Homo sapiens: one gene and its partner. The protein of the gene in region 1 purifies or fractionates together with the protein of each later gene. This does not show direct contact. Each region holds a gene or a part of one and is shown in the gene's direction. Other genes may lie near its edges.

Region 1 (3,746 bases):
CACATTGTCAGAGTAGGCTACCAGCCTCCTCTCCCTTCTTTCTCCTTTGCAGCTGCCTTGAGGTGCAGTGTTGGGGATCCAGAGCCATGTCGGACCTGCTACTACTGGGCCTGATTGGGGGCCTGACTCTCTTACTGCTGCTGACGCTGCTGGCCTTTGCCGGGTACTCAGGGCTACTGGCTGGGGTGGAAGTGAGTGCTGGGTCACCCCCCATCCGCAACGTCACTGTGGCCTACAAGTTCCACATGGGGCTCTATGGTGAGACTGGGCGGCTTTTCACTGAGAGCTGCAGCATCTCTCCCAAGCTCCGCTCCATCGCTGTCTACTATGACAACCCCCACATGGTAAGGAGTCTCCATGGGGTTCTGCCCCATGGATGGGCCTGGTGGGCCAGGGCTTCTTTGGGGAGGGTAGTTTTGGTTGCTGAGGAAAGGGTGGGAGAATCTTCAAGCTGGCCCTGCAGACCCCTCCTCTATGAGCTTGAAGCACCTTCCAGATTTAGCCTGGACTTCTGCTCCCGGCATCCATTTGTGGGCTTTCTATTTGCCCAGGTCTGGTTCCCCTTGCCCATGGCTACTTGTGGATTTCCAAATGCAGTGGACTATACCACCATGAATCCCTGGCTTCTGCCAGGACTTTGGTCCCCTGCCTCCTCTTCTTGTCATCCCTCCTTCCATCTCCATTTGGGGCCAGTGCTCTAAGGCCAGGCCATTCAGATTCTGCCCACTCTTTGGGGTTACATCTTGCTGTTTCTGTGCTTTCCATCCCTCAGCTCTTCTGCCATAGTTGTAGGCCCTTGAGGGCTGAGAGGGCAGTCCCTGGGGATGGGGCTTGGAATCTTACCTCTTCAGCCATTCTGATGCCCCTCAACCTGGTGATATGGCATTTCCTTAGACCTCAAGCTGGTGCTGGGAGATGGCCAAGGGGGCTAGTGGAGCCAGATGAGTTACTTAGAATGTTCAGAATGCTGAAGTCAAAAACTAATCCAGCATCACTAGCACCCTGTGAGCGTCTGGCTGTTCTTACAACCTATGGTGAGTCAGAGCTTGCTAATGTAACCTACTGCTATGCTATGGGGTGGTGCTGCCCACAGCTGGATGGGCTGGCAGCTCTGTCAAGGGTTCTTCAGCCTCTACTACTAAGCCATGCCAAACCAAGCATTTGGAATCCCCAGCTCTGATTTCCTTGCCTGGAGAGCTCAAGTGCACAAGTCCTGCAGTCTACCCAATGTGTGCTGACCGGCTTACTGGGGCACTAGTTGAAACAGGATGTACTGGTTCCCTCTCTGTGCCAGGTTCTACTCTACACCTACACTCTGGAGATGAATCAGACCTGGCTCTGCCCTCAGGAAGCTCTGTGTGGCTGACATGTCAGCCCCACATAAGTGATTCTCCAACAAGACACTGTGCTTGATGTCCACAGAACTTTGAGCTGTAGGTTCAGGGAGGCTGCCATGAGTCTGCTGGGGAGGCTCAGAGAAGGGGTAGATTTCAGCTGGGCCTTCTCATGTAAGTAGAATTTTGCTTTGTTGGGAAGGGGTACTTGGCTAAGAAAACTGTGACAGCAAGAGCCTGAAGACATGGGATGACCAGAGAATTGTGGTTAGTAGACATGTCTTGGGTGGAGAAAGGTGGAAGGGTTTGCCCAGCCAGGTGGTGGGGAAGTACAGCAGGTTGAGAAGAAGGATGTGGCACAATTTGCCACCTTTGTTTTAGGAAGTTAGCTGAAGGGCAGGTGGAGGAGGGAAGGAGATGAGGCAGGAGGCCGTAGAAGAGATTGGGCTGGGTCCAGGTGAGAGGCGACATGGGTTGGTTGAGGTTTTGCAGTCACATGGCCAGGAGATGGCACTAACTGAAGTTGGGAGCACTGGAGCCTGAGTGGGATGGGACAGACAGTGGGCTATGGGGAGCTCCTAGAGCAGATGTGTGACCCTCACCCCTTCAAGGGCTCCGTTGTGTAAGGCCCTGCCCCCCCTTCCACACCTGGCCCAGTCAGAGCCTTCTGCAAGAAGAGTCCTTGCAGCTGGCTGTCTTCTCATTGGCGTGTCTGCCTGTTCTGGAATCAACAGGTTGCCTCTTGGGTTGGAGGTGCTAATTCCTGGATGGGAAAGGGCTAAGGCAGCAGGGTACCCTGGGGTCAGTGCTGGAGGCTGGTCTAGGGAAGAGTGAGATGGAAGAAGCCTGGCATGGGATATTCTGGCCTGGCCACTGCCTCCTGCAGCTTTCCCAGAGATGTGGTGGACCCCATGGGGTGGGCCCTGGGTCTCCAGGGTTGGTTGGTCATAGTCTGACTAGGGTGCTTGTCTGGGGGACTGTGGCCTGAGAGCACAGCCTTGAGGCTAGCAGTCCCGAGTTCTGATTCTGTCCCATCACTGTCCTGCTGAGTGATCTTAGGCATATCCCATAATGTTTCTGAGCCTCTATTTCCTTGTCTGCAGAGTAATGATAAAATACCTGCTTCATAGTAGACTGAGAAGAGTTAAGTGATATAGGTGAGGCATTTACCCCAGCACTTAGCCCTCAACAGATGCTTAACAACAACAAAGATGGGTGGGAAAACCACTTGTGCTAACATATGCTGAGAGGTCAGACTGAGCAAACCTAGACCCTTGGCCTGGCTGTGGTCATTTGGGTGGCACAGAGGATGATGAACAAGTCAAGGTGGCCCTTCTGACCCTGCCCATCCCAGTCCTGGGTCAGTCCAGAAGACACCTGTGTCCCCATTTAGAGCTAGGTCACACTTGGCACCTGGGATGGCTCAGGGACACTTGGGTCCCCATTTACTCTTGGAGCTGGTCAGTGCATTCTCTGCCTGACAGAGATTGTAACAGGTTCAGGGAACCATGGACCCCCAGGCTTCAGGTGCTCGTGGCTATCACAGACTGGTCCGGAAGGACCTGAGGCCTCCTGGTCCACACTCCATATTATGGAGGGAGAAACAGATTCAGATAGTAGGAGAAAGGCACTGATCTCATATGTTTTTGTTTTCATTTAACAAATATCTGAGCACCTGCTCTGTACCAGGCTCTGTGTTGGGCACTAGGGTACCATGGGGACCAGGACCTGCCAGTGTGTGGGTGTTAGGAGCCTAGAGGAAAGGCCCCATCCTGGTCCTGGAGTGGGCTGAGAACCAAAGGTTTTTGTCCCCTAGGCTGCCTCCACCAGCAGTGTGCAGCGTGGCATGCTCTGGTTCTCAGAGAAAGAGAATAGAGGCTGACCTGTTCAGTGTCCCACCCCCACTGTGTCCTTCCCTAGCCCAGAGTGACAGGAGCCAGAACCTGCTTCTCTGTGAGTGTGGGGAGGCAGTGAGGCTGTGTCAGGCTCTGTGAGTGGGGTGGTGAGTAACCAGGTGAGAGGTGCCACCTGGCTTTAGATGCTGCCCACCCCATGAGGTGTGACGGACAGCTCCCTAGCCATGCCTCGTCCTGTCCTCAGCTGGGCAGGGAGTAGGCTGGTCCCACCTAGGCTGGGTGTGGACCCAGGAAGTAGCACAAGAAAGGGTACCACTAAGATTGGACAGTGGCAGTTGGTGTGGACCTGTTCATAGTAGCTGCTGCTGGAGCTGTTAGCCTTGTGCCCTGGAGTCCTGTATGGGAAGAGGCTGCAGGTCTGGGTGAGTGGTTCTTGTGAGGCAGGAGGAAGGATTCCATTCTCCATCCCTGAAACCCTTGGCATGGTTGGGAATGGGAAGGTGGGGAAGAAGTCTTTTGGGAAGTGGACAGACCCTGGCAGGGGCTCATGGGTGTA
Region 2 (3,746 bases), on another chromosome or scaffold:
TGTTACGGGCCAGGTGCTCTGCAGGTTGCTCTGGGGAGATGGGATCTGATGGCCCTCCTGCCTGGGATGCTGTCCGTGATCCTTTTACCTGGGTTTTTCTCTAAGATGCTGGAAGATGGAATCGGGTTCTTCAGGATGGTGGTGGGGTAAAGGAGGGTGCTGGGGTGTCTGGGTCGGGCCAGGACCACAGCTGGCTCAGGCAAGTCCTGTGTGTGCACGCAGGGATGTGAGGCAAGGGAGCAGAGGTGACTCCCCACACTGACCCCTCCCTCTGTGTCTTCACAGTGGATTTTGGGGTGAGTGCTCAGCTGGACCGCACCGTGGGCAGACGGAACACTTTCATTGGGACTCCCTACTGGATGGCTCCAGAGGTCATCGCCTGTGATGAGAACCCTGATGCCACCTATGATTACAGGGTATGGAGTGGAAAGTTGGGAGCATGGGGGCTGCCAAGGGCGGGAAGCAATATGGGGACCACGGGGCCTGAGCAGGCTGGGGAACAGAGGAAGGTCAGATGATGTTAGCAGTGAGGGGCTGGGGAACATCTTACGGCAAGGCAAGTGTGGGTGGGAAGATGGGATGGGTTGGAAGGCACTGCTGCAGGAATGGGTGTGGCCCAGGAAGGCTCCTGAGAGGCCAGGATGGTGGGTGAAGAGAGGTTGCAGGGCAGAGTTGTCAGGAATATTCACTTGTTCCTTCTTTCCCGTCTATAGAGTGATATTTGGTCTCTAGGAATCACAGCCATCGAGATGGCAGAGGGAGCCCCCCGTAAGTTCTGAGTCTGCCGGGAGTGGGAGGGGAGGGAAAGGAAGGGCCCAGAGAGTGGCTGTAGGGAGGAGGTGGGTCCTGGGACCCTGCCGAGGAAGGGTCCTGTAGCTCCCAGTGCAGTGAAAGGGACTGAGGGTGTCTCCTCTGTGTCCAGCTCTGTGTGACATGCACCCCATGCGAGCCCTCTTCCTCATTCCTCGGAACCCTCCGCCCAGGCTCAAGTCCAAGAAGTGGTAGGTCTCTGAGAGTGTGGGCTCTGGGAAGGAAGGTCCCTGGACAAGGCCATCCCCACCTTCATGCCCTCTGTGCTCAGGCTTGGATCTCACCAGAGAAGAGATTCTGGGGGGCAGAGGGCGGTGACTGGTGTTGGGATATGAAGACAGGAGGGACGTCAAGGTGGCTTGTGGATGAATGATCCACCCTCTTCCTCCTGCACCCATCCCTTCTGAGGGGACCCTCCCAGTGTGAGCCACCACTGTTTCCAGGTCTAAGAAGTTCATTGACTTCATTGACACATGTCTCATCAAGACTTACCTGAGCCGCCCACCCACGGAGCAGCTACTGAAGTTTCCCTTCATCCGGGACCAGCCCACGGAGCGGCAGGTCCGCATCCAGCTTAAGGACCACATTGACCGATCCCGGAAGAAGCGGGGTGAGAAAGGTCAGTGGGCAGGCTGGAGGGGGCAGGTACTAGGGGACACTCCAGCCTGGCTCCTCTCTGCCAGCCCTGCTCGCTCCTGGCACCCCTTCCTGCTCCCCTCCTTGGCCCCAGCTCTCCCTGTCCAAGGAGATCGTTCTCAAACTTGCAACCCCCAAGGGGTTTTCCCTCCTTTCCCTCCCAGTCTGAATCAGCCTTCCAAAGGAGGACCGGCCTTTCGCATCCTTACAAAAACTCCATGCTAAGCACATGTGTGTGCGAGCACAAGCACAGGCTCTGCCACACCTCAGCTGCCCTGGGACCCAGTCCCGGTCCTGTCCAGGCCCACACCTGAGACCCGCTGTCCTCCCATTGCCCCCAGGAAGTGGGTGGGGCCCCTCATGCTTGCCCAGCCAGAGAGACCTGGTTATCCCCACCCAAGGTTTCCCTAGCCCACGGCGGGTCTGGGGCGCTGGGTGAGATAACTGCAGTGGCCTCCCCCTGCAGAGGAGACAGAATATGAGTACAGCGGCAGCGAGGAGGAAGATGACAGCCATGGAGAGGAAGGAGAGCCAAGGTAGGCCTGGCAGGTGGAGTGGGGGTTGGGGCGGTCATCGCTGAGTGGGGGGACTACAGTGGTGCTTGGCTTTGGGGACTCTCAGCCTGGGGGTGGTGGGCACAGAGAGGTAGAGACTCCTGGAAACCAAATTTCTGAGTGCTAAGAAGTGGAACCAATGACTGAGCAAGAGCTGGGGAGAGAGCAATTTGTGGTGAATGTGGGGCGCAGCAGTAATAGGAAAGGAGGACAGGACTGAAGACTGGGCAGAAGGGGACGGTAAGTCTCCTGGCCACCTGGGAGTGGCCAGAGGCAGAGGCTTTGATCCAGTTAAAGCACCCACTCAGGCGGGCCCACGGGGTTGAGAGTGGGAACCAACAGGGTTCTGACCCCAGTGCTTCTTTGTGCCACCCCTGCCCAGCTCCATCATGAACGTGCCTGGAGAGTCGACTCTACGCCGGGAGTTTCTCCGGCTCCAGCAGGAAAATAAGAGCAACTCAGAGGCTTTAAAACAGCAGCAGCAGCTGCAGCAGCAGCAGCAGCGAGACCCCGAGGCACACATCAAACACCTGCTGCACCAGCGGCAGCGGCGCATAGAGGAGCAGAAGGAGGAGCGGCGCCGCGTGGAGGAGGTGGGCTGTCTCCGAAGGGCCCAGGCCTGGCGCGGCCTCCTCCTGACCTGCCCCGGGTCCATTAGGGCCTTGGAGAACAGGTTTTAAAATGCCTTAAATGAATGGCATTTCTGTTGAAACAATTATATGATTTCAAATTTCATGATGAGCTGGACTTAACACAAAATGTAATCCCATCACTTTGGGAGGCTGAGGTGGGTAGATCACCTGAGGTCAGGAGTTTGAGACCAGCCTGGCCAACATGGTGAAACCCCATCTCTACTAATAATACAAAAATTAGCCAGGTGTGGTGGCGCATGCCTGTAATCCCAGCTACTCCGGAGGCTGAGGCAGGAGAATTGCTTGAACCCGGGAGGCGGAGGTTGCAGTGAGCAGAGATCACACCACTGCACTCCAGCCTGGGTGACAGAGCAAGACTCCGTCTCTAATAATAATAAGCAATAACCCGCAGCACCCACACTGTCCACCTGCTACCTCCAAAGTAGGCCCTCTCATTGTTGAACAAAAAATAATTTGCAAGAAAACCTGCTACAGAAGAGCCTTGTGCAGTTTTGAAAATATAGGCCAGGTGAGGTGGCTCACGCCTGTAATCCCAGCACTTTGGGAGTCGGAGGATGGGGGCGGATCGTGAGATCAGGAGTTCGAGACCAGCCTGTCTAATATGGTGAAACCCCATCTCTACTAAAAATACACAAATTAGCCAGGCGTGGTGGTGCACGCGCCTATAGTTCCAGCTACTTAGGAGGCTGAGGCAGGAGAATCGCTTGAACCTGGGAGGTGGAAGTTGTAGTGAGCTGAGATCACGCCACTGGCCTGGGGAACAGAGCAAGACTCCGTCTCCAAAAAATAAAAAAATAAAATAAATATAGCGTTCAGATAGTATAGTAACAAAGTCCTATCTTTTTTTTTTTTTTTTTTTTGAGATGGAGTTTTGCTCTTGTTGCCCAGGGTGACGAGTGCAGTGGCGCACTCTAGGCTCACCGCAAAACCTCCGTCTCCCAGGTTCAAGTGATTCTCCTGCCTCAGCCTCCTGAGGAGCTGGGATTACAGGAATGCGCCACCACGCCCGGCTAATTTTGTATTTTTTTCAGTAGAGACAGGGTTTCTGCATGTTGGTCAGGCTGGTCTCGAACTCCCGACCTCAGGTGATCCA

Evidence for each region. The genes of interacting proteins can lie anywhere in the genome.
Region 2: the proteins of TEX264 (region 1) and MINK1 purify together in Homo sapiens (affinity purification with mass spectrometry; 3 studies listed by BioGRID and IntAct, with this or other methods). This does not show direct contact.

Annotation. Positions count from the first base shown.
Region 1 is NC_000003.12:51,674,219-51,677,964, forward strand, and holds part of TEX264 (testis-expressed protein 264), read left to right. Parts: intron 1-52; coding exon of another isoform or gene 53-86; coding exon 87-344; intron 345-3,746. UniProt on the Homo sapiens protein: Major reticulophagy (also called ER-phagy) receptor that acts independently of other candidate reticulophagy receptors to remodel subdomains of the endoplasmic reticulum into autophagosomes upon nutrient stress, which then fuse with lysosomes for endoplasmic reticulum turnover.
Region 2 is NC_000017.11:4,885,198-4,888,943, forward strand, and holds part of MINK1 (misshapen-like kinase 1), read left to right. Parts: intron 1-285; coding exon 286-416; intron 417-713; coding exon 714-768; intron 769-922; coding exon 923-1,001; intron 1,002-1,253; coding exon 1,254-1,429; intron 1,430-1,912; coding exon 1,913-1,982; intron 1,983-2,382; coding exon 2,383-2,593; intron 2,594-3,746. UniProt on the Homo sapiens protein: Serine/threonine kinase which acts as a negative regulator of Ras-related Rap2-mediated signal transduction to control neuronal structure and AMPA receptor trafficking.